Homo sapiens: one gene and its partners. The protein of the gene in region 7 purifies or fractionates together with the protein of the main gene of each other region. This does not show direct contact. Each region holds a gene or a part of one and is shown on either strand. Other genes may lie near its edges. The genes, in order: CALML5, SERPINB13, DMKN, SERPINB3, ANKRD40, PPL and RBM24.

Region 1 (3,399 bases), on a different chromosome or scaffold from region 7:
ACACACAAACACATACACAGACACACACACAGACACAGACACACACAGATAAACACACACAGACACATAGACACAGAGACACACACACACAGATACACACACAAAGCCACACACAGACACAGACACACAGATAAGACACACACACAAATGGACACACACAGACACATAGACACAGAGACACACTCAGACACACACACAGATACACACATACACATGCAGATGCACACAAGGACACACAGACACACAAACATACAGAGACTTACACACAGATGCACACATACAGAGACACGCATACAGACACACAGACACACACACAGATGCACACACAGACGTACACGTATATTATTTGCAGCCGAAGAGAGGCAGGCTGCGTGCAGAGGCTGGCAGCTGGGCTCCGTCTGTCCATGCGAGGCGCCCGCTCCTGTTTGTGCGGGACACGTGCCCAGGTCCTCACCAGCAGCTCAGGCAGAACCTGGAGCCACAGACACCGCCCAGCACCATCCTCACACATCCTCTGCCCACCTGCCCTCTGCTCCGCGTCAGGGGAGGCAGGAGCTGCCCCTGGGGCCTGCTCCAGGCAGTTCTGCCACCGCAGGTGAGAGGGGTGGGCTGGAAGGAACCCTGGAAGCAGGTGGGGGCCCTCGGAGGCAGCCGCCCCACAAACACCAAGCACACATGGAACTCGGCAGTCCTTTATTTAGATCAATGCGGGGCTGAGGGGCCCTCATTCCACTGCAGGGCAAAGGGGGACCAGGCCCAAGGAGGCCTCCTTCTGCCCAAGGTCTGGAGGCAGAGAGGGGCTCGCAGGCGGCCCGAGGGCGCCGCATCCAGGCCCCGGAGCGCAAAGCCTTCCTCCCAGGGGGAGGCAGTTTCCCATCCACCGACCAGGTTTCCCCGGAGAGTCCCAGCACAAAAGCAGCAGCGGGCGGTGGCCCTGAAGGCTCAGAGCGCAGCCAGGGGGACACAGGCGGGGAGCCTCACTCCTGGGCGAGCATCCTCGCGAACTCCTCGTAGTTCACCCGCCCGTCCTGGTCCACGTCGGCCTCGCGGATCATGGCGTCCAGCTCCTCCTGCGGCAGCGGCTGCCCCAGCCCCGCCATGGCCCGCCTGAGCTCGTCCACGGTGATGTGGCCGTCGCCATCCTGGTCGAAGGCGCGGAAGGCGACCTGCAGGTCCTCCAGGCCGGCCCTGGCCTTCTTCGCCGCCGTCAGGAACTCCTGGAAGCTGATTTCGCCGTCGCCGTCGCTGTCAACCTCGGAGATGAGTTTCCTTAGCTGGGCCTCCGAGAGGTTCTTGCCCGTGGCCTTCAGCGCCGCGCCCAGCTCCTGGGCATTGATGGTGCCGTTTCCATCCGTGTCAACCGCGGAGAAAGCCTTTTTGTACTGGGCCTCCTCCTCAGGAGTCAGCTCACCGGCCATGCCTGCGTCTCCTGCACCTCGCGGAGCCTCCGAGCTGCTGCCCACCGGCCCTCAACCTGCTGCTCTCAGAGCTCGTGGTCCAGAGTGCAGGCAGCCGCAGGGATCCGGGCAGCGTCTGTCCCAGACAGTTCTGCCTTGGCATGGGAACCCCCTCCTTTTCTGCAATCGGAACAAAGGGAGGAGGGAGGCTCCCCACCCTCCAAATGCCCTGGGGTGAGAGCCTCCTCCCAGGGAGGGCCAGATCAGCTGCAGACAGGAAATGCAGGAATGGGAGTTGGGAGAGCTGTCAGGTGCCAGGTGGGAACTGCCATGGGGTCGGGGTATCGGATGGCTAGCCTGCCAACCCCGCCTGGCCTTGATAGCAACCACCTCCCTCCAGGAACATTCTGCCCAAGGGATAGTTTCCCCTGCAGCTGATTCTCGGAGATCCTGACCAAGCCAAGGGGTTCAAGACAGCTTCTGCAACTTCACAAAGACTGAGACTGGAGGGGGAGGTGGCTTGAAGAGGGCTCCCTCAAGGGCACAGCAGGCCCCAGTGTTTGGTGTTTCCGTACCCCTCTCTCCAGTGCTACTGCCTAGCTCTTGCCCTGAGGCTGGGGCTGGTGGAAGGGAAGTGGGTGGTAGTGTTGATTCTGCCAGGGCACAACTGTGGGTATCATGAGATTCCCAGGCCAGGGTCTAGAGACAGAGGATGGGGCTCACTGCCTATAACTTCAAGGAAGCAAGGGACCAGGGCTGCCTTCAGAGCCATAGCTGGTGCTGAGATGGTGTTTATCAAGTGAACATGTGACGTGCAGTTTCAGAGGAGAGGGAAAGACTTTTTGTCTCCCCAGAATACTCCCTTCTAGCTCAGGGATTCCTACAATTCAATTCCATCGCCAAGTCCAAGGTTCCCTGTGCAGACACCCTGGGAGCTCAGTGGCAGGCGTTCCATTCACAGGGCGTCAAACAGTTACAGCTGGAGTTTTGCTGCAGCGAGACACGGGGGACCTCAGTGCCCAGCATACCCCAAAGGTGCAGGCAGAGGTGCAGGAGGATGCAGAACAGGTGGCTGCCATCAAACTTGGCCCTCCTTGTGGTTTTACTAAGCATCAGCCCTAAGCACAGAGACCCATCTGGGAGCCTACTGGGGTCCTCAATCTGATCTGTTCTCTGGAAGGAAACCCCCAGGGCCACTTGCCTTGACCAACTTTTAGAGCAACAGCTAAGCTTTCGGGGGACCATCCCCAAGTCCTTCCACTGATGTGATCTACAGTTGTGAGGGGACATTTGCCTTGGAGTCCCCAAAATGCCTTTCCCAAGCAAGTCCCCTCTGATCTCCATAGATTCCCATTCTTCTCCCCAGCCCCTGCCCGTACACAGGGAACAAACTCCTTTATTCCCCTGGGAAAGTTTATACATTCCACCTCCCTCCTGTTCAGCCCATCAAATAGACCAAGTGCCCTCTCCTTCCCTAAAGTGCAGCCAGACAAACACCTCCCAGCCCCTTGGTGCTGCACACATTCTCCAAGGGAAGCCGGAGGCTGGGGTGCCCAACCACGCACTCCATGACCCACAGCTCAGTCCCCCAGGACCACACAAGGGGCAAACCAGGCAGAGCAGTGAGAGGAGGGAAGATGCCCCAGCCAGCCCTAGTGTGGCAGCTGCTCCCTGAGCTGCATGTGAGGGGCCAGAGGGAGGTGCAAAGGGCTCGGAAGCACCACAGCAGAGGGAGAGGCTGAGGTCTGCAGAGAGGGAGCTCCGTGGACCAGGTACAAAAGGGAAGGTCATGGTCAGCAGGGAGAGGGAAGGAAGGGGGTCACCCCACCGGAGTTCAGGGGGACCCAGCATAGACAGAGAGATGCAGAGAGCAGTGTCCCAGTTGTCTAACTCATTTTATAAAGATAGCTTGAAGATTTTCTAGCTCACCTCAGTGGTGGAATAATACAGAGGCCTCAATAAATATTGAGCAACCAATTTCTCAATGAAATTGACAACCGGT
Region 2 (4,035 bases), on a different chromosome or scaffold from region 7:
CAAAAAGTTGAACAGTATTTTTTAGAATTTATTGTGGGATGGGGTGAACTCAGAGACAAAAATATCAACTCCTTCTCCAATATAATAAGTAATCCCTTAATCTCAGGTGGTAACTATATTGAATGGTAAGCATAATAGCTAACACAGAGTGCTTATTATGTGTGAGATGGTATTCTAATAGCTTTACATGTGTTAAATCATTTGTTCCTTTCAACAACCCTATGAGGCAGATTTTATTCCTATTTTACAGATGTGGAAACTGAGGCACAGAGAGTTTAAATAACTTGCCCAAGATTCCTCAGCTGATAAGAGGCAAACTGGATGCTAACAGAGGCATCTGACCCCAGAGTCTGGACTCTTAACCATGAACCTTAATTTATCCACTGGGATAAATAGGCGATGGGCAAAATGAGAACCTCCCCGTCGATTCTGCCAGCAAACCCTTTGTCAGCAAGGCCCTCAGGTGCTGACCTGGCTGGGTTTTTAATGATCAGTCAAGTCCATCTGCATCATATTTGTCATACATATTATTTGTCATTTGGAAGATGGGTCAACCTTTTTCTGTTTCTTCATTTGCAGAAAAAATCAAGGACTTGTTCCCAGATGGCTCTATTAGTAGCTCTACCAAGCTGGTGCTGGTGAACATGGTTTATTTTAAAGGGCAATGGGACAGGGAGTTTAAGAAAGAAAATACTAAGGAAGAGAAATTTTGGATGAATAAGGTATGGCCCTTAGTTTATTTTCGTGATGTGCTTACACATGGAATGTAAAGTCTAAAGTCATGGCTGGGCGTGGTGGCTGACACCTGTAATCCCAGCACTTTGGGAGGCCAAGGTGGGTGGATCATGAGATCAAGGGATCGAGACTATCCTTGCCAACATGGTGAAACCCCGTATCTACTAAAAACATAAAAATTAGCTGGGTGTGGTGGTGCACGCCGGTAGTCCCAGCTACTTGGGAGGCTGAGGCAGGACAATTGCTTGAACCCGGGAGGCAGAGGTTGCAGTGAGCCAAGATCATGCCACTGCACTCCAGCCTGGTGACAGAGTGAGACTCCATCCCCCACCCCCCCAAAAAAATCTAAAGTCATATTTGAGCAAATGCATACTGGTAGATAGTGGATGCTCATTCTGAGACTCTGATATTGGGTTTTATTTTAGATTGAGCTAATTATTTTGATGAACTAACTTGGTTGCCTTAATGCCTTTGGTCTTATGTCCTTTGATATTGTGTGCTCTGTTAATTTGTTGCAGAGCACAAGTAAATCTGTACAGATGATGACACAGAGCCATTCCTTTAGCTTCACTTTCCTGGAGGACTTGCAGGCCAAAATTCTAGGGATTCCATATAAAAACAACGACCTAAGCATGTTTGTGCTTCTGCCCAACGACATCGATGGCCTGGAGAAGGTAAACGCTTACACCTCCTTATTCTTTCTTTCATTTCCTAAGGCTTTTTGTCTCAGGGCTTCTGAGTAGGAGCTGGTGGCCAGCAGTGTCAAATAGAAAGTGTTTCTCACTCTCCAGCAGCTACAGATGGATGTCTACTGGGGAGCATTAAATAGTATGGGTCAGGTTTATTGAGAACAACTAATCCTAGAATGTTTGGGATGAACTAAAATGAACATTTAAGATTATATGGGAGTCCTAACGATCACCCACCATTCTGAGAAATGGTTGGTATCTATGGACCCCTTTCCTGGAAAAAAGAAATCACATATGCATATATACAACCAGTTCTGCACACTGTTCAATAGGCTTTTGGAGCTTTTGAATTTCTTTCTTACACTCTTACACCATTGATTTAGTCTCATCCATTCTGTGGTTAAAAAAATTATGTGAAGGCCGGGCGTGGTGGCTCACGCCTGTAATCCCAGCACTTTAGGAGGCTGAGGCGGGCGGATCACGAGGTCAGGAGATCGAGACCATCCTGGCTAACACGGTGAAACCCCGTCTCTACTAAAAATACAAAAAATTAGCCTGGCGTGGTTGTGGGCGCCTGTAGTCCCAGCTACTCGGGAGGCTGAGACAGGAGAATGGCGTGAACCTGGGAGGTGGAGCTTGCAGTGAGCCGAGATAGCGCCACTGCACTCCGCCTGGGTGACAGAACGAGACTCTGTCTCAAAATTAAATAAATAAATAAATAAATAAATAAATAAATAAATAAATAAATAAATTGTGGCTAGTGTCCTGTATTTTGAAAATGAGGAGAGTTTTGTTTCAAATCCCTGTTCCTCTAGTGGCTTTCTGACCCTTGAAGCTTCTTAACTTCCTTGAACTTCAATACTTTCCCATCTCTGAAGAGGGCTCCATGGTGGTTAACGTGCAGCAGTGTTGGAATGATTAGAGAAACGTAGCCTAGAAGGGGTCTAGGACATAGAAAGCACTCAAATGATAACTGCTATCGTCTTATACTACCAGATGCTGTGCTACTTCTGTGAAATATTGCTAGTAGCATTTTAAGTTGGAAAATATTTTGAGACAGCAAAATAGCAATATGTCTGAGAGCTTTAAGAGTATTTCTGATTCAAAAACCCCAGTTGTGGGAATTACTCTAAAGAAATAATGCAGAAGAAAAAAGTTGCCTTTCTGAGTAAAATCAGTTATTTCGGTATTAAATACACTGGAATGCCCAGTTTGAAATTCATCGTAATTATTATTTTGTATCCTTAGTAACTATCAAATCTATCACAATGCCTGATAAAGACTAAATGTTTGTAAAGTGAATGAATAGCTAAATATTGGGAAAAATTTATCAACTTCATAAGAATATTATCTAGCTGTTTGAAGATAGGAGAGATATGCAATATTGTGAAAAAGTTTACTTTTTATCAAATAAAATGGACATTCACTGTGATTGCAACTATGTAAATATATATGCATTCAAAGACTAGGAGAGATAGTTAAAATGAAATATATACTAGGTTGATAAAATAAGAAATGACTTATTTTTAATCTTTAAAAATGTATTCAATGCTATTGGATTTCCACATATACACAGATAATTTAAACAGAGAGATATAAGACAACCGCCTGCAGTATAAAGACAACAATCTAGTGAAATAAAATTTCTACTTTTAATATTACTAAAATTAATAACTTCTGACTGACACAAATCAGTGTTACACTGTTTTAGATTTTTATTGATAATCATGCCATTCTACTCTTCTTTTTTTGAAAATAGATAATAGATAAAATAAGTCCTGAGAAATTGGTAGAGTGGACTAGTCCAGGGCATATGGAAGAAAGAAAGGTGAATCTGCACTTGCCCCGGTTTGAGGTGGAGGACGGTTACGATCTAGAGGCGGTCCTGGCTGCCATGGGGATGGGCGATGCCTTCAGTGAGCACAAAGCCGACTACTCGGGAATGTCGTCAGGCTCCGGGTTGTACGCCCAGAAGTTCCTGCACAGTTCCTTTGTGGCAGTAACTGAGGAAGGCACCGAGGCTGCAGCTGCCACCGGCATAGGCTTTACTGTCACATCCGCCCCAGGTCATGAAAATGTTCACTGCAATCATCCCTTCCTGTTCTTCATCAGGCACAATGAATCCAACAGCATCCTCTTCTTCGGCAGATTTTCTTCTCCTTAAGATGATCGTTGCCATGGCATTGCTGCTTTTAGCAAAAAACAACTACCAGTGTTACTCATATGATTATGAAAATCGTCCATTCTTTTAAATGTTGTCTCACTTGCATTTCCAGTCTTGGCCATCAAATCAATGATTTAATGACTCCAATAATGTGTGTGTTTATAACCATCCTCGAAAGTGAAATGTCCTTTTCTTTGTGCCATGCGTAAGGTGAGTCAAACCAAACCTCATTGATAATCTCCCTTTGGTTTCCTTTGAAAGTAAATTGGTATCTTGTAGTTTTGTGCACACGAAAGGAGAGAAAGTCTCTCCAGTAAAGAGTACGAACTAGTAATTTTGGGGGGTCTCTCTAATTCTGGTATTTTGACATGTTATAATACGCAAGTAAAATAAAACAATAGTTTACTCAGCTCATGTTACTATTCCCCAACAGATATTGTGGCAAAT
Region 3 (4,000 bases), on a different chromosome or scaffold from region 7:
TGAAGAGTTGGCAGAGGTCTTGAGGGCAGGAGGAGGAGTAGGAGGAGGAGGCGGCGGCCATTTGGGCTAGGACAGTAAAGGCAGGTGAGGGTGGGGGCCCTGGCTGGCTGGAGGAGATTGTATAAAAGAAAACACGTGACACAAGGAGGGGAGCAGGCAGGTGTTTTAGGAAAGGTCTGGTCCAGGCAGGAAGGTGGGATGTTTATTCCAGAGCAAAATGGCCTTCGTCCGTCTGTTCTAACCGCCATGCCCACTTCTTCCACAGAACTACAATTACAACCAGCATGCGTATCCCACTGCCTATGGTGGGAAGTACTCAGTCAAGACCCCTGCAAAGGTGAGACCGGCAACCACCCTGTCTTCCCGCTGGGGGCTCTGCATGAGGGATGGGGAGAGAGGCTTTCACTGCCGGGGTCCTCTCGGTTGGTTGCCGGAGGCCGGATCCCGCTCTCTTTGAGTCCAGGCCTCCCCACCCCTTTGCAAGGGAGACTCGGGTTCCCTGAGACAGTTTGGAAGTGGAGGGCAGGAGGGTTCAATGCGCCTCACACCCACCCAGTCAGAAAAGGTTAAAAAGGAGCAGCAGCAGCAACAGAGAAAACTGAGAACCAACACCCTCTCCAAGAAGAATATAGGCTTTAAAAAATCATGACACCTGCAAAACACGCAAGCAGCTCTTCCTCACAGGTTCCCTCTCTGTGGACCTTTTTTTGCGGGGGAAGATGGAATGGAGGGCGAGGAAAGCAGACTAGCACTTAGGGGAGGCCGGCCTGTGGATGCCTGGTTGGCGGTGAAATGAATGCTTTATTCCACAAAGGAAATGAAAAGAAAAAATACGTGAGAATTTGGTTTTATTCCGTTGCAAAGAAGGCAATCTCATAACATCAGTAAATGAATATGCTAAGTACAAATTTGGCTGACAAAGCAACAGCAGGCTGTGTATTTCCATCTCTCATGACAATAAAGTCCCCGCCCTTGGGGAGAGGACCTTCCACTGAGGGACGAGAAACTACAGGCTGGTGAGAGGAGGGACATGCAGCTTCTACTGCCTGTGGCTTCCACTCTGCTGAGTTATCTGTGGCTTCCACTCTGCCGGGTTATCTGTGGTCAGTGTCTCCCTACCTGGCAGGCCAAAGCGAGGCCTATGCTCTTTTGACCCCCTTGGTCAGTACGTGCCCAGGAACCATGTTCAATATCATCTTGGATCAAGTGCACTCAGGATGATAAACGTGCTGTGAAACCAACTCCACAGCCTGAATGTCCACAGTCAGACTGGAAAACCTTGGTGATAGCCCTGGTGTGAGCCTGCCCTTGCTGCTGGGCCCTTCATGAGCGTGGAGGCCATGGCAGAGTACAGGGAGGCCATGACCCCACATCACTTTCCTTTGATCTTTTTGCAGGGGGGAGTCTCACCTTCTTCCTCGGTGAGTATGGGGGCCTGATCTTCATCTGGCTGGAGAGAGAAGGGGCCTGAGGCCAGAGGGTATGGAAGGGACCCTGTGGTGGCCACTCAGACTTTCTCTTTTTCTGGCAGGCTTCCCGGGTGCAACCTGGCCTGCTGCAGTGGGTGAAGTTTTGGTAGGTGAGTGTCAGAGTGAGCCGACCCAGGCCACATCCTGGCAGTGGAGGCACAGTCACCCGGGGCAGGGCCAGGATCTTGGTATATCCTCAGATCTCAGTGGGCAGCGACATGAAGTCAGGTATGCTCTGGGTGCGTGCTCTAAAGGTGATAAGGAAGAGGGGACCTCATGGTGGGGTGTGGAGAAAGACCCATAATAAAGTGATCTAGGGCTGGGTGCAGTGGCTCATGCCTGTAATCTCTGTGCTTTGGGAGGCTGGGGTGGGAGGATCACTTGAGTCTGGGAGTTTGAGACCAGACTGGGCAATATAGCAAGACCCCATCTCTAAAAGAACAAAACAAAACAAACCAAAACAAAACAAACCATTCCAGCCTGGGAAACATGGCAAAACCCCGTCTACTAAAAATACAAAAAATTAGCCAGGTGAGGTGGTGCATGATTGTAATCCCAGCTACTCTGGAGGCTGAGGTGGGAGAATCACCTGAGCTTGGGAGGTTGAGGCTGCTGCGAACTGCGATTGCACCGCTGCACTCCAGCCTGGGCAATCACAGTGAGACCTTGTCTCAAAACAAACAAACAAACAAATGAAAAACCTTAGCCAGGCATGGTGACACATGCCTGTAGTTCTAGCTACTTGGAAGGCAGAGGCAGGAAGATCGCTTGAGCCCAGGAGTTCAAAACTGCAGTGAGCTATGATCACACCATTGCACTCCAAGTCTGGGCAACAGAGGGAGACCCTGTCTGGAAAGAAAGAGAGAAAGAGAGAGAGAGAGAAAGAGGGAAAGAAAGCAAGCAAGAGAGAAAGAAGAAAGAAAATGACCTAGGACCCTCGGAAAGCACCTTAGGGTGGGACCACATAGGCACAGCTCTGAGAAGATGGTGTTCTAGATGGAGCACAGGGACCGGGATAGAGATGTTACAGGGGAACTGTGGAGAAAAGAGCCTCCTGGTGGAAGGGTTCAGAGGTGGGACGCAGCGAGGCTGCATGGGCGAGAGGTGATAGCTTGGCTCGGCAGAACCACAAACTCTGTTTTAGGCGGAGCAAAAGTGAGGGGCACCACAGGCGAACAGGTAGGACAGCAAAAGAATGGTGGGTGCCCAGACGCTGGGTGAAAAGATGCCCCGTTTCCGCAGGCTTAGGAGTGGCCACGTGCTACCATTTGATTTTCTTTCTTCTAGGCAATTTCTTGCAACCACCACCGAGGCCCCGAAAAGCACTGGTCGTCAGGGAGCTCCTCCCCTTGGCCCCCAGCCTGTGCCAGCCCTGGCCCGGCTGCCACACCTCTGTTTCCTAGGCTGGGGACCCAGCTTGTCTCTCCTTGTTTCTTCCCACTGCACTGTGGTGCTTCAGTGGCCACCAGCCTCGTCACATACACCAGCATCTTTCTGTACCTCCTCCCTTTGGTGACCTGAAGTCACTGTGACAGTTCTCCAGGAAGGAGGAGCTTCCTACTTTTGAGTTTCTCTGTGGAAATAAAACATGAATCTTGTTTCCCTACGACTTTCTCAAATTTTATTCTTTAATGCTATGTTGATGGCCTGGCTCAGGGAGGATGGAAGAGTGATTCAGGGGCAGCTAATCTGCCTTCTGCCTGAAACTGGTATAAAGCACAGAGGCTGAGAGAGATGAGACCTGGGTTTTATTTCTGACAAGAAGCCTGCATTGTGCCTCAGTTTCCTCATCTGTTAAAAAAAAAAATCATTGCCCAACCTATATCTGAATACCATTCTTTTTTTAGAGACTCAATCTCACTCTGTGGCCCAGGCTAGAGTGCAGTGGCACGATGTCGGCTCACTGCAACCTCCGCCTCCTGGATTCATGCAATTCTCCTGCTTCAGCCTCCTGAGTAGCTAGGATTACACGCATGCGCCACCACACCTGGCTAATTTTTGTATCTTTAGTACAGATGGGGTTTCACCATGTTGGCCAGGGTGTTCTTGAACTCCTGACCTCAGGTGATCTACCCGCCTCAGCCTCCCAAAGTTGCTGGGATTACAGGCGGAAGCCACCATGCCCGGCTTGAATACTGTTCTTTTTTTTTTTTTCTTGAGACGGAGTCTCGCTCTGTCACCCAGGCTGGAGCGCAGTGGCGCGATCTCCGCTCACTGCAAGCTCCGCCTCCCAGGTTCACGCCATTCTCCTGCCTCAGCCTCCCGAGTAGCTGGGACTACAGGCGCCCGCCACCACGCCCGGCTAATTTTTTGTATTTTTTAGTAGAGACGGGGTTTCACCGTGTTAGCCAGGATGATCTCCATCTCCTGACCTCGTGATCCGCCCGCCTCGGCCTCCCAAAGTGCTGGGATTACAGGCGTGAGCCACTGCGACCGGCCTGAGTACTGTTCTTTTTGCACTTGAAGCAGCCACAGGTGTTTTGTTGGCCTGAAAAAGCGACAATGGAAATATTCAAGTCAGGAGCAGGGGG
Region 4 (4,732 bases), on a different chromosome or scaffold from region 7:
GGCTTGGGTGAGTTCCTGAGAATAGTTGAGGAAGTACCAGGAAATACTGAATGCACAGGATGAAAGATAAAAACAAAGATCAGAAACATCATGGTTGAAATTACTGGAAAGAGGTCTGAGAAGCAATGAATCTCCTTCAGGGAAGCCTGCTCTGCAGTTTGCAAACCACAGCCTCTTCTGCTTCTGCCTTTTGCCAGATGATATTGACCTTCGGTGACCTCTTTCTTGCGCCAGCCCGCACTCCGCTTTTGCATTGCCTACATGGCACCAGTATAAAAATATGCATGGACAGGAGATACTGCATCTATTCAGGGTCTGGATTCAGCTTACTATAATTATAAATAACTAAATTTGGTAATATATAGTTACATAAATTACTCTTACTTCCTACTTTCTTCCTTCATATCTCAAAGGAATATTTAGATGCCATCAAGAAATTTTACCAGACCAGTGTGGAATCTGTTGATTTTGCAAATGCTCCAGAAGAAAGTCGAAAGAAGATTAACTCCTGGGTGGAAAGTCAAACGAATGGTAGGAGAGCCACCCATTATAGAAACACCTTTGAGAAATCTATGCGAGTGAGCCCTATGCCTGAAACTGCATGGGGGACCATGGGTGGGAATTGAGATGGCTTTGCAGGGAGGGAAGAAGAGGGCACTCCAGATGAAGAGTTTTTCCAAATGATTATGAAGAGAGCCTAGGGGAGCCAAGGAGGAAATCACAGGAAGCCAATTAGAAGAAAACATAGCCGGAGGATTCTTTGCTCATGTTCCTGGATGACAATAGCTTTGTGGATCCCTTGTCTCCACTCAGGTCCAATTTGAGATCATGTCCTTTACTTTAAATCAGAACCAATATTTTATGATGAATATTTAAAAGGAAACATTAGAAAGCATCTCCCTTCCCCTTTACTAATTGGGAAACAAGCAGCTCTCTGGTAAATCACCCTTTTGCCATCTGAACTAGAGCTGCCTGGATCACATCTCTAGCCACAAGTTCTGCAGGGATTATCACAGCTCTCTTCCCCATCAAGGGCAAGAGCTTAACAAATTCTCCATTCTATAGACATCTATCCTACCTCCCACCTCTCATTACAGGCCAAACTTACAGCAACTCAACATGAGAGTGAATAGGAAGATACCCCCGGAAGTAGTGTCTGACAGCACAGGACATGCGTTTCATATTACAGAGCTCATGTCACTTGTCCTAAAAAGCAGTCAGGGCCTACTTCCTCTGAATGGGGACCCCGTAGTTAAAAAAAAAAAAAAAAAAGTAGGAAGAGGAGGGAGGGAGAAAGGAAAGACACATGTTGAAAGAGTAGACAAAATCAGTTTATCAGTATTCCAAATCAGATGAATGGACTCATTCATACACAGAGAACGTGAACTCCTTCTCTATCACAAGAAGTGATGTCTCCATTAAGGGCAACTTTATACGACTGGAGCCTTGAAGAAAGCTGCATCTGGTGAACCACTGGTCAGTGAGTCTAACAATTCAAAGATCAAAGTCAGTGAGTCTCAAGTAGGGATTTGGGTCAATAATTAACGATCAGTCACGAACATTTGCAAAGCATCTTCCAGACAAGCCATTTGTAGCTTGTGTAAAAGACTCTTTTATTCTTTCCCTTGCAGAAAAAATTAAAAACCTAATTCCTGAAGGTAATATTGGCAGCAATACCACATTGGTTCTTGTGAACGCAATCTATTTCAAAGGGCAGTGGGAGAAGAAATTTAATAAAGAAGATACTAAAGAGGAAAAATTTTGGCCAAACAAGGTATTGTCTATATTTTATTTATATAATGTAATATGTTAATAAATTTAAACATTTCTGATGGAATGTACCATGACAAGTAAAAAATAAAATTGTTCATGTCTGTTTTTTTGTTGTTTTAGTCTTATAACTTTATTTAGTTAGGAATTCCTGAAGAAGCTATTGTCTCTAACTCATTACATTCTTGGATTATTTCTTAAAAGAAGGATGTGTTGATATCTCAATAATATTATCTTTTTGCCTTGTGTCTCACTTGGTATTTGTTGGACACATTGATTTATTGTAGAATACATACAAGTCCATACAGATGATGAGGCAATACACATCTTTTCATTTTGCCTCGCTGGAGGATGTACAGGCCAAGGTCCTGGAAATACCATACAAAGGCAAAGATCTAAGCATGATTGTGTTGCTGCCAAATGAAATCGATGGTCTCCAGAAGGTAAGAACTTGCATCTACAACTCTTCCTTCTACTGCCTGACATTTTTCCAAAGATACCAAGTTTAAACAAGGTAAAAGCTGGTGACCGAGTTGCCTCAAAATAATGAAAAATTCTAAATGAGGAATGATGACTCACCTTCATATTACAAAGATTTAAGCATAGGGCCTGACACAAACTGAAGGCATAGTTAATGATTAATTTATTAGAGTTACATGCATTGGATATCAATTTAATGATATTATTATGCAGCAATTTAAACTTGACTGGGAGAAATATATAGCAATGTGAGGAAAGTTTACGAATACACCAAGTAAAAAAGGGAATAGAAATTTAGGAATTTGGGGAATTGCAATTTAATAATTGCAATGTGTACTAAATAATGTATACAGAAAAATAAGATGAGCCTATTAAAAATTGACACATGTAGTAGGCTGTTGGCACAAGAAATAGTGATATATATAGTTCATTGTGTACAAAATAATGTAATCATATTTTTACATGTGTATCATACAGTTGTATACATACATATGTACACATTACATATACATAAAAACTTGATTCTGTTTATACACATACACATATAACCCAATGTATTTATATATCCAGGACTCATATTTTGCCTATTAGAATAATAATATCTAATAAAGTGAACCTTCTGTATTTCACATTTGTTGCCAAAATAAGGATTCTCCACATAGTCAATTCATTGTTAAGGTGTATTAGAAATCAACAGTTAGTCATATCAGTTTCTTTTTTCCATTTGTATAGCTTGAAGAGAAACTCACTGCTGAGAAATTGATGGAATGGACAAGTTTGCAGAATATGAGAGAGACACGTGTCGATTTACACTTACCTCGGTTCAAAGTGGAAGAGAGCTATGACCTCAAGGACACGTTGAGAACCATGGGAATGGTGGATATCTTCAATGGGGATGCAGACCTCTCAGGCATGACCGGGAGCCGCGGTCTCGTGCTATCTGGAGTCCTACACAAGGCCTTTGTGGAGGTTACAGAGGAGGGAGCAGAAGCTGCAGCTGCCACCGCTGTAGTAGGATTCGGATCATCACCTACTTCAACTAATGAAGAGTTCCATTGTAATCACCCTTTCCTATTCTTCATAAGGCAAAATAAGACCAACAGCATCCTCTTCTATGGCAGATTCTCATCCCCGTAGATGCAATTAGTCTGTCACTCCATTTGGAAAATGTTCACCTGCAGATGTTCTGGTAAACTGATTGCTGGCAACAACAGATTCTCTTGGCTCATATTTCTTTTCTTTCTCATCTTGATGATGATCGTCATCATCAAGAATTTAATGATTAAAATAGCATGCCTTTCTCTCTTTCTCTTAATAAGCCCACATATAAATGTACTTTTTCTTCCAGAAAAATTCTCCTTGAGGAAAAATGTCCAAAATAAGATGAATCACTTAATACCGTATCTTCTAAATTTGAAATATAATTCTGTTTGTGACCTGTTTTAAATGAACCAAACCAAATCATACTTTTTCTTTGAATTTAGCAACCTAGAAACACACATTTCTTTGAATTTAGGTGATACCTAAATCCTTCTTATGTTTCTAAATTTTGTGATTCTATAAAACACATCATCAATAAAATAGTGACATAAAATCATTTTTGCTTTACATTTTCTCTCTGGAAAGGGAAAGTGTCCAGTTACACACAGGAAAGACAATTTAGAGATATATTAATCACAAACAAAGGAAAATTAAAAACAGAGTAGTTCATGATGAGCCTGGAGTAGAAGGCATATCCCAGAACAGGAGGAGCCTTGTAAACCACATTAGGAACTTCCTATTTTATGCTAAAGGGATAAGAAACTCATTACAGGCTTTGATGGTTGTTTGTCAAAGAGGGGCATAAAATTATCATATCTTCATCTTGAAAATACATCTCTGGTTACTCTGATATCAATGGATGAGAGGAAAGAACAGTGTGGTTACCATATATAAATCAGGAAATCATTAGAGTATTGGGGGTGGAAATGAAGAGAAAGAAACAGCCTGGCAGAATTATTTAGGAAGTAATAGTTAAAAAAAGACATCTAAGTTTCTGAGCTATCTGACTGGAAGGATGGAAGAAAATGTTGTTTTTGAGAGAAAAAAAAGACCATGGGTTTAAATTTGTACTTGATGAATTGAGGTACTTTTAATATTCAAATGAATTTGCCTGGCAGGTACTTGAAGATATTGATCTAAATCTCAGAAACAGAATATGATCTGAAGCTCTAAATTTGTGATATTCAACATAAATACTTTAGAGTTATTGGGATAAACATGGTAATTGTAGCTAGAAGCAAAGATAAGATCCTAGGGAGGAAGGATAAAGTTAGAAGAAAGAAGAATCTGGAATTGACCTTGAAGTATATCAATATGTGTAAAGATCATGAACTGATCATTTTTATTTTCCAGAAAGTAGCTTTTCTTAGGGTTCCATATTTACTCCCATAGATTCTTCCCAGTCAGTACTGAATCCCACCTGGTTTCATAAAACATAAGT
Region 5 (4,035 bases), on a different chromosome or scaffold from region 7:
AATATGAAACTCCTTGCAAAAAAGACAGTAAAAGAGCCAAATGACAAGCTACTAATAAAAGCTAAAGTATAACTTGATTTGAATGTAGCACACCTTCATGAGGAAGGGGTCTTGGCTTATTATTCATAGGTCTGGGATCTAAGCAATCTGCTCCTTTATTCTGAACCTGGCTGCCAAGACAGCCTGAGTCAAGCACCCTGTACATTTGGCAGTTCTGCTTTGTTCCCTGTATATGAATCCCTTGTAGCACCCCAGGTCACTGTTAGCACCTACAGTAGTAACTCCTCAAAAACAGGAAGTGAGAGAGTTACTTCCAGGAAAAAAGGAAAAGTAAGACTAGCTACACCCTATGGCATTTGACTGGATTTGGAAGAATCAGGATGAACTTGTGGTTTTTAATATTTTTAAAAAGTTATACATAGAGAAATATTGATATCTTTCCTGGCTATGTCCTCTCAACGGGCCTAGAAGAAATGATATACCTGTAGCAATGAGGACACCTAGTGACCACATCCTGGTGTCTGAATACCATTCTCGGTGGGCCCAAGTGGGAGGCAAGTTTGCTGTGTGCCCTAAATACCATTCTCCACCAAAAAGAACCAGGGCTTCTTGGAGAAATGACTGATTCCAGGGTTGGGGCAGGAAAAGTTATGCTATAAGCCCGGAACATCTTGCTGCCCCAGAAAGTAAGGCAGTGCTCCAAGAACAATGAAGACACATGCAAGGGACATAAGAACTAGCTTCAAGGGGCTCCCACTGGCCAAATCTGGGATAATTTGAATAATTAAAAAATGATAGTAACAGATTATAACCCACTGAATAAAATAAGAATATATGAGTCAATACTGATATGAATGAAGGAGAAGGGAAAGCCCTTCTTTACAGTAAAATACCAACTAATAAGTAGAGAAAGAATGATAGAAAATCATATCCCACAAAAATAATTGGCCTGGACTCTTCAAAAAGATCAAGATCAAAAATGATAAAGGGTAAAGATTCCAGATTAAAGGAAACTAAAACAACGTGATAACTACATGCAACATATGATCCTGGGCAGGATGCAGGGGGCAGAGGAGTACAGATAGTCCAGATAGATATCAATAGTACAGATAGTACTATTTCTGTAATAGTACAGACAGTACGTATAGTAGATGAGGGAATACAAAAGGCAATGTTTGAGACAACTGACAAAATTTAAACATGGTCTATGGATTACAGAACAGCATTAGCTCAAGATTACATTTCTCAAATTTGGTCATTTGTACTGTAGTTATATAAGAGAATATCCAGCTGGGTGCGGTGATTCACACCTATAATCTCAGCACTTTGGGAGGCTGAGGCAGGCAGATCACTTAAGGTCAGGAGTTTGAGACCAGCCTGGCCAACATGGTGAAACCCCATCTCTACTAAAAATACAAAAAAAAAAAAAAAAAAAAAAAATTAGCCAGGCGTGGTGGCATGCTCCTGTAATCTCAGCTACTTGGGAGGCTGAGGCAGAAGAATCACTTGAACCTGGGAGGCGGAGGTTGCAGTGAGCCAAGATCACACCACTGTACTCCAGCCTGGGTGACAGGGCGAAGCTACGTCTCAATAAAAAAAAGAGAGAATATCCTTGTTCTTAGGAAAGATATAATGGAAAGAATACTGAAGGGTATCAGGGTAAAAGGGCAAAAGGTAAACAATTTGTGAATTTGAGTAAAGGGAGTTCCTTATGTTAGTCATGTAACGTTTCTGTAAGTTTGCAATTATACCCAGAATACCTCATTAAATCCCACCCCTCTGGACACCAACTCCCCTGTTGCAGAGGCTGTTTGCTGATGAGGGGTTACCTTGCATATTAAATGGAAATGCTCCAGTGAAGAAAAATGGCTGGAATGCTGGCGCTGGTCCTGCATACGTCCCATTTTGAGGCTCCAGAGACATTGGTGGCTTGGACGGGACAGAAGAAAACAGGGAGCGGCTCTGACTCACTGGTGGCTGACAAACAGGACCCGGTTTTGTGCTTTCTGGTGTTCTGAGTATGGCAGAGGGGGCCGACACATCACCATTCTGAACTAGTGCCAAAGAGGTGTGGTCCCGGGGAAAGGTCCCTAACAGGGGAGGTTCCCCAGGGGGAAGCAATGGAGGTGAGCCATCTGCAGGGGGTGATGCAGGGGGTGTGGAGGGGCCCCCATTCTGCATCTGGGCTGAATCCTCTGCTGTGGGTGTATAGATAAAAGGGAAGGCTGGGTTGGCCAAATAGTTGGGAACAAAGGGCAGTTCTGACTCCTTCTTCAGCTGGGGGAGGTTGTCATCATCATCATCATCATCATCTTCTTCTTCCACTTAAAAAGAAGAAAACAGAACATTTACACAGTCCTTTCAAAATTATCAAAACAAGGTGTCTTTTGAAAGTGGTGTCTTTTGGTATGTGACATTGGTCAGTGTCAGGTCAGAAGAAAAAAGAATACTTCATTAGGTTTATGATTACCATTTTTATCATTATCTTAAATTTTACAAATAAAAAAATAAAACCTTACAATGCTGACCTCCCCAGAAACAATCTGGAATTACTATCTTGGCACAGTAATTTGCTTTTAGAAATAGAACAGTTGCCGGGAGCGGTGCCTCATGCCTGTAATCCCAGCACTTTGGGAGGCTGAGGCTGGCGGATCACCTGAGGTCGGGAGTTTGAGACCAGCCTGACCAACATGGTGAAACCCCGTCTCTACTAAAAATACAAAATTAGCGAGACGTGGTGGCACATGCCTGTAATCCTAGCTACTTGGGAGGCTGAGGCAGGAGAATCACTTGAACCTGGGAGGCAGAGGTTGTGGTGAGCCGAGATCACGCCACTGCACTCCAGCCTGGGCAACAAGAGCTAAACTCCGTCTCGGAAAAAAAAAAAAAAAGAAAGAAATAGAGCAGTTGTTTGACCAGCATTAAGAACGTAGCCAATAATACCACAAGTCTTCAATGAGTCTGAGGAAATCAAAAGTTCCCCCAAACACAGACTCACCTCCCATAATCTTCCTGATTTCTCTCCTTGATGTTAACTGGACTGGCATTTCTCCTTTTGTGGTAAGAATTTCTTTGTCAGCTCCTGATTTTAACAGGTAAGAGACCACCTGACCATGGTTTCGTTTACATGCCCAGTGTAAACAAGTCCTGTACCAAAGAAAATAATGATTGAAAAAGAGGAGAAGTGATTTTGGATTTCAGATTCTAAACATTAGTAAATAATGTATAAACAAGCCTGTTAGAGTTCAGCTAGAACCAGGTAACCGGGCTGGTAATCTCAACTTTTCACAAAGCCGATGAGCAAAATATTTAATATGCTTAAATTTTGTTTTTAAATTTCATTTCTGGCTCCTGAGAAAAACTAACTTAACCTAGGAGTTTTAATTTCAATAGCCTCCAGAAGGTAAGCTCACTGGCTGGCTAACTCCAATGATACCGTGGAATATACTCTATCAGTATCGCTCATTAGATCATCTCAGTCTCTGAAACATATTTTTCTATTGCTATATTCCTTTTCAGGGACTATGGAAACTCACTTCATATGCCACCTGAAGATTCAATATTATCAGGATAATAACCATCTCCTATCAGCAGCTTGCTCTGTCACTTAAATTATTATTATGACAGCAGATATTCTTGCCTGAATCCCAGTTGCTCACTTTCTTTTTCCTTCTTACTTTTCTTTCCTTAACACACACACAAAGGATTTCCAAATTTCCATTTTTAAAAAGTTGGCTTCTCTAGTTCTCTCCAGAAGGCTACAAACATATCCTCATCTGCGTAAATGTAAGGCACTGCACACATACTTTAATTCCTGAGGTACTTAAAAAATATACATCAACAACCAAAATTCTTCACGAACAGGTTCTTCTAACATATCAGACTCATTTAAGTAAAACTAATCACTCAATATTGTACACAGAGGAAGCAATTCTGCACACTCTGAAGGGCTACTATTTTAATACTGTACAGAAACATAATTAGCATGCCAGCAAAAACTCCATCTTAACAGAAATGAAAGATTCAGAGCAACTA
Region 6 (4,035 bases), on a different chromosome or scaffold from region 7:
GTTTCTTCTGCTCCTCTGAGAGCTTTGCCCTCAGAGACGCCACCTCCTCCTTGGTTTGAGGGTCTTCTTGGAATTGGAGGATCTCCTGGACCACCTCTTTGGTCTGGACCTGGGGTTTGGTGTCTTTCAGGGCCTGGATTTCCTTTTTCAGCTGGTAGATCTCTAAATCACACCTTTCGATCAGTCTGGTCTTGTCCACGATCTCCTCCCTGAGCCGCTGAAGCTCCTTCTCCATCTCAGGGTCAGTCTTGTACTTAATGACTTCCTTAGTCACCTCTTTGACTTCCACCTGGGGGCCTCGCCTCCTGAGGGCCTCCAGCTCACTCTGGTAGCTCCGGAGCTGCTCCTCGGCACCCCGGTACTTTCGCTCCTGCTCCACAAGCTCCAGGCGGAGGTTCGCCACTTCACTTTCCGCCTTGGGGTCTGGCCGCACGATCTCCCGCACCTTCTCCTGCACCACCACTTTGGCGTTCTCCTCCTCCAAGGCCCATATCTTTCGGAGCAGCTCCGTCTTCTCCCTCTGGCTAGCGCGAGCCTTGGCAGCCTCGTCCTCATATTGGCGGGTGAGATCGCTGACCTCCCTCTCGGTGGCCGCGTCCTTCTCCACCTTGAGCACCTCCTTGACGGTGATCTTGCCCTCGGCCATGGCCCGCTCCTTCTCTAGCCTCTTGAGCTTGTCCTGGAGGAAGCTCAGCTCCTCCTCCTGCTTCTCCCTGAGCTGGTCCTGGCGCTGGTGGTCCTCCTGCAGCTGCTGGTACTCTGCCTCCAGCTGGGGGTCATTCTGCAGTTTCACCACCTCTTTCTCTGTGACCTTCTCCTGCGCCCGGCTCTTCTCTTCAGCCAGGGCGGCCACACGCTGCTGCAGGAGGAGCACCTCTGCCTCCCGGGCGCCCTTCTGCCGCCTCAGTGCCTCCAGCTCCTCCCGCAGCTGCAAGACCTCATCCGCCTGGGCCCTGTCAGGCTCGATGCGCAGGACCTCCTTGACCACGTACTCCTGCCCCCCGTCTCTGGTCTCCTGCTCCAGGGCACGCAGCTGCAGCTGCAGTGCCTCCAGCTCCTCCTGCAGCAGCTGGTTCTTGTGCTGCTCCTCTGCCAGCGTCCGCTGCAGCTGCTGGAAGCTCTCCTCCAGCACGGGATCCGGCACCTTCTTGAGCACCTCCTTCCTCACCACCGATTCCTGAGGCCCCTGATTCCTCAAGGTCCAGATTTCTTCCTGGGTGCTCTTGACCTCGTTCTCCAGCTGCCGCCTCCGCTCAGTCTCCTCATCCAGTTCCTTCCTGATCTTCCACGCCTCCTCCACTCCAGAGTCCGGCCTATTCCTTTGCAGGGTCTCATGGGTCACTTCTACTTCCGGCTGCTGTGATGGAGAAGACAAGACAAGGTTAAAGCCAGGCTCTGGCAGCACATGTAGGGCCTGTCCCCACCTGGTCAGAGTGGCTGTCCTGTGGTCCCCAAGGGACTCCCTCAGTGCCAGTTCATGTTAGTTGTAGAGTTCTAGGGTTACTTTCAAAAAGGATCAAACAACTAGTTTGGGGTTTTTTTTAATCAGGTAAAACATTTTTGAGCTGTGGAAGAGTTTAAAATGAAACCACGGTCTCCCACCTCTGGTCCCCGTCCTAGGGCGTGTCTGTCAGCCTTGCAGATGCTATCTGTGCTCACACAAGAATATCTGTCTGTAGTATGTACCATGTGTTTATCTCTCCTGCACAAATGGTATTCCTGCTGCTCACTGCACTTACAGAGCTCATTCCAGCTCAGCACAGAGAGTGCTGCTTCAGGATTTACCAGCAGCATTGTTTCCGCTCTCTGGACAGACCGCAGTTTAGCCCATTGCTGATGAAGAGTGAACTGCTTCCAGTGTCTTGCTATTAAAAAACAATGCTGTCATCAACATCATGGACTTCAGAAAATAACATTCACTTTCTTTTGTTTCTTTCTTTTTTTCTGAGACAGAGTCTCGCTCTGTTGCCCAGGCTGGAGTGCAGTGGCACAGTCTCAGCTCCCTGCAACCTCCACCTCCTGGGTTCAAGCAATTCTCCTGCCTCAGTCTCCTGAGTAGCTGGGATTACAAGCATGCGCCACGACGCCCAGCTAATTTTTGTATTTTTAGTAGAGACGGAGTTTTACCATGTTGGCCAGGCTGGTCTCGAACTCCTGACCTCAGGTGATCCGCCTGCCTCGGCCTCCCAAAGTGCTGGGATTACAAGCGTGAGCCACCATGCCCAGCTGAAAATAGCATTCACTTTCAGCAGATGTTTACTGAGTTGAATAAGTTCTCATGTCAGTAGAAGCATTGGCTCGGGCCAGTCTTTGCATTGGCCCTGCCCAGAAACGTTAGCAAGGGGACACTTCCATCAATTCACAAACCATTTCTCTAAGACAGAGTCTGTATTTGTCACCTGTTAGAACAGCCTGAAGTAGAATTTCTTACTAAGATCAGTTACCTGTCTGAGGAGATTCAGAGCAAACTCCAGATTCTGCAGCCTCTGTCTGTTGATGGCATAAACTTCAGTGAACTTGGCGGCAAGTGCTGCTTCCTGCAGAGAAGAGGATTAGGAGAGCGGTCAACAAACAGGTGTCAACAGGGTAAGCAACAGAGAGCTAGACAGCGTGGACGTGGTTCTTGAGAAGTGTGGAATTTGGGGGTAGAGGCATAGCTCTTGCCCACTCCTGCCTGGAGTTAGACTGTAGCCTCACCGGTGGAGAGAAAAATGGATCTCGAGGCAGAAGATCCAGGCCAGGGTCTTGGCCACACTGACTTTGAGCAAGTCTTTCTGCCTCTTAGAGCACCAGTGTTCTCTCTTGTGTGTACAGGAGACTAATATCAGCCCTCCACTGTACTTACTGAGGTGAGCAAAACAGGAACTTCCCAGATCCATGGTTCTGACCCTGACACTTCTGTTCAGCTGCATTTTCAAAAATTTTTATTTCTTAAAGACAGAATCTCTTTCACTCAGACTGAAGTGCCATGGTGTGATTGTAGCTCACTGCAGCCTTGAACTCCTGGGCCCAAGTGATCCTCCCTCCTCAACCTCCCAAGTAGCTGGGACTACAGGTTTGCACCACCACGCCTGGCTAATATTTTTGTAGATATGGGGTCCTGCTTTGTTGCCCAGGCTGGTCTCCAACCCCTGGGCTCAAGCAGTTCTCCCACCTCGGCCTCCCAAAGTGCTAGGATTACAGGTGTGAGCCACTGCGCCCGGCCTTGCTGTCTTTCTAGGCATATTGATGTCACTGCCCTAGAACAAGTTCCTCATCTCTTACCAAACCTGTTTGCATGCAGGAGGGCTCTCAGTGGCTTCCCTGTTGTGTGTGCATCTCTGAGGCCAGCGTGTGACACCATGCTCCCTGGGGAGCAGGGCAGCTTGGCCTCCACCTCAGTCCCGAGGCCGCCTGGCCCATGGAACTCACCTCTTCCTTCACTTTGGTGGCAGGAGATTGGAGCCTGGCTCTCTTGCTCACGTGGCTTCTCCTTCCATTCTCCAAGTCGAGAAGAGACCTTAGTTTTTCTGCTTCTAACTCATAGTCCTGCATGAGGGAGAGACATGGCAGAGGGGAGATTAAAACAGCTGAGAAGAGACAGACATGTTCCTGTACCCCTTCAGGCTGACCCAGACCTGCCCTGTGCCATGTGCTGGTTTTATAATCTGCGTGGGTCTTCCTCACAGCTGCACCCTGCAGTGATTTCCAGGAGGTTTTGAGAATTACTGATATCTCAGCAGTACATAGCTCCATCACTCAGTAACATATGAGACAAGAAGTGCCCCCTGAATTCCCCTCCCAGCCTTTCTACATGCCTAGAGATTTTCACATTCTGCTGCTGCTTTTAACATCGTACCATAACCCTGTCTCACCTTGCCACCACCTCTTCTCATGTTTACCAGCTTGCTGACTTTATAATCCATCAGGTGGATGTGTGCTGATTCACGCAGCTTTCCCCTTCCACTGGACACCAGTCCTTTCCAGCGTACTAGTTTTGCTATTGTAAATAGTGCTGTTGCAACAATGTTGTTTATCCTGCATTTTTTTTTTTGT
Region 7 (4,035 bases):
TGTTTGTGCAAATATTCATGGGCGTTAAAAAAATTTGTCTAATACATTGTGGGTATGTAGTATCCAGAAAAAAAACATTTTTTTTTGTGAATTTTTAATACTGGAAAGTGTAAAACCCATAATCTTCCAAAGCATTGTCTGAAGCATCCCAGAACGTTCCAAATTACAAAGACTTTTCATAGATTCTGGTTCAAAACTGTGAGAATATTTGAGATGTAACTTCACTGTCAAATCCTGCTGTACTTAATTTTATTTCATGAACATTTTCCCAAGGTCTGATTCTGTGTCTGTCAACTAAAATTTGCAGATTTTTTTAAAGTTTTCACCTTTTCTCTGTTAAAACCTTTATTTTGAATCAATGATAGCATTTATAAAACTGACTTTAAAAAATATACATACATATAGTTTCTTTAAAGTGGCGAAAGAATGTTTATCTTTTATAAGTGAAAGTTGTGATTGCATTTTACATGTAGGAATAATAAATGCCTAACCATGCACAAATAAAGAATGTGGTATATTTTGTTGTTAGGTTTTGCCTTTGGTGTTCAACAACTTCATCCAGCCCTTATACAAAGACCTTTCGGGTAAGTTGATTAATCAGGCTTTCTTAAGTTTCAGTATGACTATCATTTGTTAACGTGCCTCTTTGTTATATACAGATAAGATCATGATGTCACAGAATGGTCCTAGTTATACAATTTTATATATATTTGTGCATTTTTAATGCTGATACTATAAATATTTTTAGATGAGTCAAGTTATCTGACCAAGTATGCAGCCTCCAAACGAGACAAATTTTGAGCTTATGATTAGCAAAACAAAACAAAAATACCAGGTATGACTTGTGTACAAGACGATTGTGTCCCATCACCATTACTACTGTTCGACTTGACTCAATTTTATTTATCTCTTTCTAACCTGACAGGGCTCGTATACAGTTAAGCTAACTGATCAGAAGGATACCATGATAAGAGGTGGAATAGTTCTGTTTGGAATTAAACTCTGTAACCAGTAGACTCAGACACACAAGCTCAGATGGTGATTAACGATGCATGGATGTTGGTGTTGTTGTTTTTATTTTTCACAATAGTCAATAGCCCTTCGTGTGCTTTATTTTATTTATTACAGTAATGAAGTGGTGTTGATAGCTAAACTGTGTGCTTTTTACTTAATTGAAAAGAGCTGTAGTGAAAGTGTTTTCTTTTCCTCGGGGAAGGGGCTCTTTGCGTTTTGATTTTGGTGGTGGTGTTGAGGGGTGTTGACTTTTGACTTTGCCATGGGAAGCAAAGGGCCTTTTTTTTTTTCTTGCTTTTAAGCTGTAGCCTGTGACTTCCATTTAACCACATTTTTGTAGTGAGTGCTAAATTGTGTGATTTCTCTTTGTCAGAATACAGATTCATTGCTTGCATGTCCTAAGTTTCTGTTTTATGGGAAATTTTCTGGGAATGGGGTTCTTTCTTTTGCAATGTGTATCCACTTTTAGGCCATCTAATTTAAAGGTTCAACAACTCTCATCAGATTTTATTAACACAAGCCAGTTTTTTTGAGTAGCGTCACACTAACTTTCACCTTTCAGATCTAACTCAGGTGAACACCTGTTCATATTTATGTTGTCTTTGGGTCCTGTGATTACCAGTTTTCCTGTTCCAAGGTCCTCATTTCTCTTCCTTTCAGAGGTTATATGGGTGGGAGATCACCCCTCGCCTCAATTTATCCTGGACACTAGATTCTGTTTTGGCTCTGTTCTACCTGATCAACATGCCTGTAACTCTAACGCAGGATACTTAAATTTTCTTTTTAAATGTTCATGTTGTTGAAAGAGTGTTTTATCCTCAATAATAATTTCTCCTCTAGCTTAGGACCTAAAACATCTACCTGTGTAACCTGGAAGGCTGGAATCTGTCTACATAGATAGATGTCTACCATATGTGTCTCTAAGAATAGATTTTAAAAAGAAATTAATAATAACTTGACTTGGAAGAGTAAAGTTATATTTCCCATGACCACCTCCTTACAACTCTAACATATCGGTACCTCACTGTTATTGCCAACTACTACTATTTTTTTTTTTTTTTTTTTAGCTGTGGAAGAGTCTTCTGTTCAATATGATCAGAAAGGGCCTTCCTATATCCATAGCTACTTAGCAAATCCCCATCCAAGCCAACCCAAATACTGAAAACAAGTGGTGGGTTGATGGGTTCAGCTATTTCTGTGGGTAATTCATTTAGACTTAACTGTTTAAGGTGGGATTAGGGAGGAGAGCATATATCTGAAGGTGTGATGTGAGCTTAGTGGTGGGCTCACACTAATAATCTTGAAACAGTTATAAAATTGAATCAATCAACAGGTAGTTGCATGTGTTTATTTTTTCACTGTGCCAGTGGGTGATGCAAAATGAGGGAATTGCACATTAGTTTGGGAAGCAAAAGTCATGCAAAAACCAGTCAAGAATTATTAATTTCTAAGTGACTTGGTATTGTTTCAAGTACAAAAGGAATTCAGAGTAGCAAGAAAATAGATGAAGTGGAGGAGTTGAATAAGGCTGTGGTGTGCATGGCAGGTAGACTGGCACTAGACTTGCACCACTGGGTATGTCTTAGGCAGGTAAAAGGAAGACTGGATATGTCTGGAGGGTATAGGATGGAGTGAGCCGAAGCAGAGGCATAGAGGAGAAGACTCAGTGCGTGGAGAAACCAGACTGTCTAAGGTGGGTCTTGAGAGCTGGGCATAGGAATTTGGACTGATTGTGGAAGTCCTTATAGATCAGTTCTTAAGAAAGAAGGTAACACAAGGAAAATTACAACCACCAGTGTAAGATGTGTCATGGAAATTTGAAAGCAAGTGTGTTTTGATAGCAACCTTTTGTTTTTCACCTCTTCTAATATTAACTGTCTTTATAAAGGATGGTGATTATTAGTGTGTGCATAAATTGTTTGAACTTGAGATTCTTATTAGAAATAGATAGCATTCCAGGTGGACCAAGTGAGCTTTCTCTTTCTTTTTTAAGAGGTTCTCAACACTGCTCTAATTTCAGAGTCTGTACCTAACAAATCACACCTGGTCATCCTAAATTCTGTTTGAATGCTACATGTTCCTATTTTAGGCCTGGAAAGAAACTTGAGAATTTCAAATTTGACTTGACTTACTTGAAATTCTAGTAACTGAACTGTTCCTTTGAATGTGGTCCTTAAATGGCCCCCAGGTGACTTTGGGCCTCTGTAGACAAAACCTTGGCCTAAAAGGAATTTCTGATGTAGCACAGTGGGCAGATGTAGAAAAACTTATAAACTTGCTAAACAATATTTTATAGTTTATGGTTGAAAGAAGCATTTCCTTATTGAAACCTTGGAAAGGGGAGGCTACAGATCTGTGAGTAGAAATTTCTGGGCTAGTGGCCAGGTGCGGTGGCTCATGCCTGTAATCCCAGCACTTTGGGAGGCCGAGGTGGGTGGATCATGAGGTCAGGAGGTTGAGAGGGCGAGACCATCCTGGCTAACACAGTGAAACCCCATCTCTAATAAAAATACAAAAAATTAGCTGGGCGTGGTGGTGGGCGCCTGTAGTCCAGCTACTCGGGAGGCTGAGGCAGGAGAATGGCGTGAACCCAGAAGGCGGAGCTTGCAGCGAGCCGAGATTGTGCCACTGCACTCCAGCCTGGGCGACAGAGCGAGACTCCATCTCAAAAAAAAAAACCAAAAAACAAATTTCTGGGCTAGTTTAGATGAGGTTGAACATACACTTAAACATTGACTCAGTACCCCTTTAAGTGCTCAGTTTTATGCTGGGTGTGGTAACACTGTGCTTAGTTTTTATAGTGTCCACTAAGGAGGGCAGGAGGGACTGTAACTAACACTAACCAAACATCTGCCATATGGATTGTAATGATAAGGGATTTACATAAATTACATAATTTAATTCTCACAGTAAGTGTTTGTTGAAGGCATTGTTAATATCTTTTCCAAAACTAAGACACAGAGAGGTTAATTAACTTCCCCCTGATCACAGGACTGCTAAGTGTTAGAGGCTGAGTCTAGA

What was found.
Region 1: the proteins of RBM24 (region 7) and CALML5 purify together in Homo sapiens (affinity purification with mass spectrometry; 3 studies listed by BioGRID and IntAct, with this or other methods). This does not show direct contact.
Region 2: the proteins of RBM24 (region 7) and SERPINB13 purify together in Homo sapiens (affinity purification with mass spectrometry; 3 studies listed by BioGRID and IntAct, with this or other methods). This does not show direct contact.
Region 3: the proteins of RBM24 (region 7) and DMKN purify together in Homo sapiens (affinity purification with mass spectrometry; 2 studies listed by BioGRID and IntAct, with this or other methods). This does not show direct contact.
Region 4: the proteins of RBM24 (region 7) and SERPINB3 purify together in Homo sapiens (affinity purification with mass spectrometry; 2 studies listed by BioGRID and IntAct, with this or other methods). This does not show direct contact.
Region 5: the proteins of RBM24 (region 7) and ANKRD40 purify together in Homo sapiens (affinity purification with mass spectrometry; 3 studies listed by BioGRID and IntAct, with this or other methods). This does not show direct contact.
Region 6: the proteins of RBM24 (region 7) and PPL purify together in Homo sapiens (affinity purification with mass spectrometry; 3 studies listed by BioGRID and IntAct, with this or other methods). This does not show direct contact.

Annotation. Positions count from the first base shown.
Region 1 is NC_000010.11:5,498,021-5,501,419, forward strand, and holds CALML5 (calmodulin-like protein 5), read right to left. Parts: upstream 1,551-3,399; 5' UTR 1,419-1,550; coding exon 978-1,418; 3' UTR 677-977; downstream 1-676. UniProt on the Homo sapiens protein: Binds calcium. May be involved in terminal differentiation of keratinocytes.
Region 2 is NC_000018.10:63,593,776-63,597,810, forward strand, and holds part of SERPINB13 (serpin B13), read left to right. Parts: intron 1-250; exon of another isoform or gene 251-399; coding exon of another isoform or gene 400-463; intron 464-579; coding exon 580-722; intron 723-1,253; coding exon 1,254-1,409; intron 1,410-3,183; coding exon 3,184-3,588; 3' UTR 3,589-4,035. UniProt on the Homo sapiens protein: May play a role in the proliferation or differentiation of keratinocytes.
Region 3 is NC_000019.10:35,496,295-35,500,294, reverse strand, and holds the end of DMKN (dermokine isoform 2 precursor), read left to right. Parts: intron 1-265; coding exon 266-337; intron 338-1,397; coding exon 1,398-1,421; intron 1,422-1,531; coding exon 1,532-1,579; exon of another isoform or gene 1,580-1,697; intron 1,698-2,613; exon of another isoform or gene 2,614-2,648; intron 2,649-2,756; 3' UTR 2,757-3,075; downstream 3,076-4,000. UniProt on the Homo sapiens protein: May act as a soluble regulator of keratinocyte differentiation.
Region 4 is NC_000018.10:63,654,312-63,659,043, reverse strand, and holds the end of SERPINB3 (serpin B3), read left to right. Parts: intron 1-413; coding exon 414-531; intron 532-1,631; coding exon 1,632-1,774; intron 1,775-2,057; coding exon 2,058-2,213; intron 2,214-2,982; coding exon 2,983-3,387; 3' UTR 3,388-3,847; downstream 3,848-4,732. UniProt on the Homo sapiens protein: May act as a papain-like cysteine protease inhibitor to modulate the host immune response against tumor cells. Also functions as an inhibitor of UV-induced apoptosis via suppression of the activity of c-Jun NH(2)-terminal kinase (JNK1).
Region 5 is NC_000017.11:50,697,570-50,701,604, forward strand, and holds part of ANKRD40 (ankyrin repeat domain-containing protein 40), read right to left. Parts: intron 3,148-4,035; coding exon 2,999-3,147; intron 2,325-2,998; coding exon 1,830-2,324; intron 1-1,829.
Region 6 is NC_000016.10:4,884,691-4,888,725, forward strand, and holds part of PPL (periplakin), read right to left. Parts: intron 3,529-4,035; coding exon 3,412-3,528; intron 2,538-3,411; coding exon 2,445-2,537; intron 1,358-2,444; coding exon 1-1,357. UniProt on the Homo sapiens protein: Component of the cornified envelope of keratinocytes. May link the cornified envelope to desmosomes and intermediate filaments. May act as a localization signal in PKB/AKT-mediated signaling.
Region 7 is NC_000006.12:17,284,128-17,288,162, forward strand, and holds part of RBM24 (RNA-binding protein 24), read left to right. Parts: intron 1-529; coding exon 530-584; intron 585-4,035. UniProt on the Homo sapiens protein: Multifunctional RNA-binding protein involved in the regulation of pre-mRNA splicing, mRNA stability and mRNA translation important for cell fate decision and differentiation. Plays a major role in pre-mRNA alternative splicing regulation.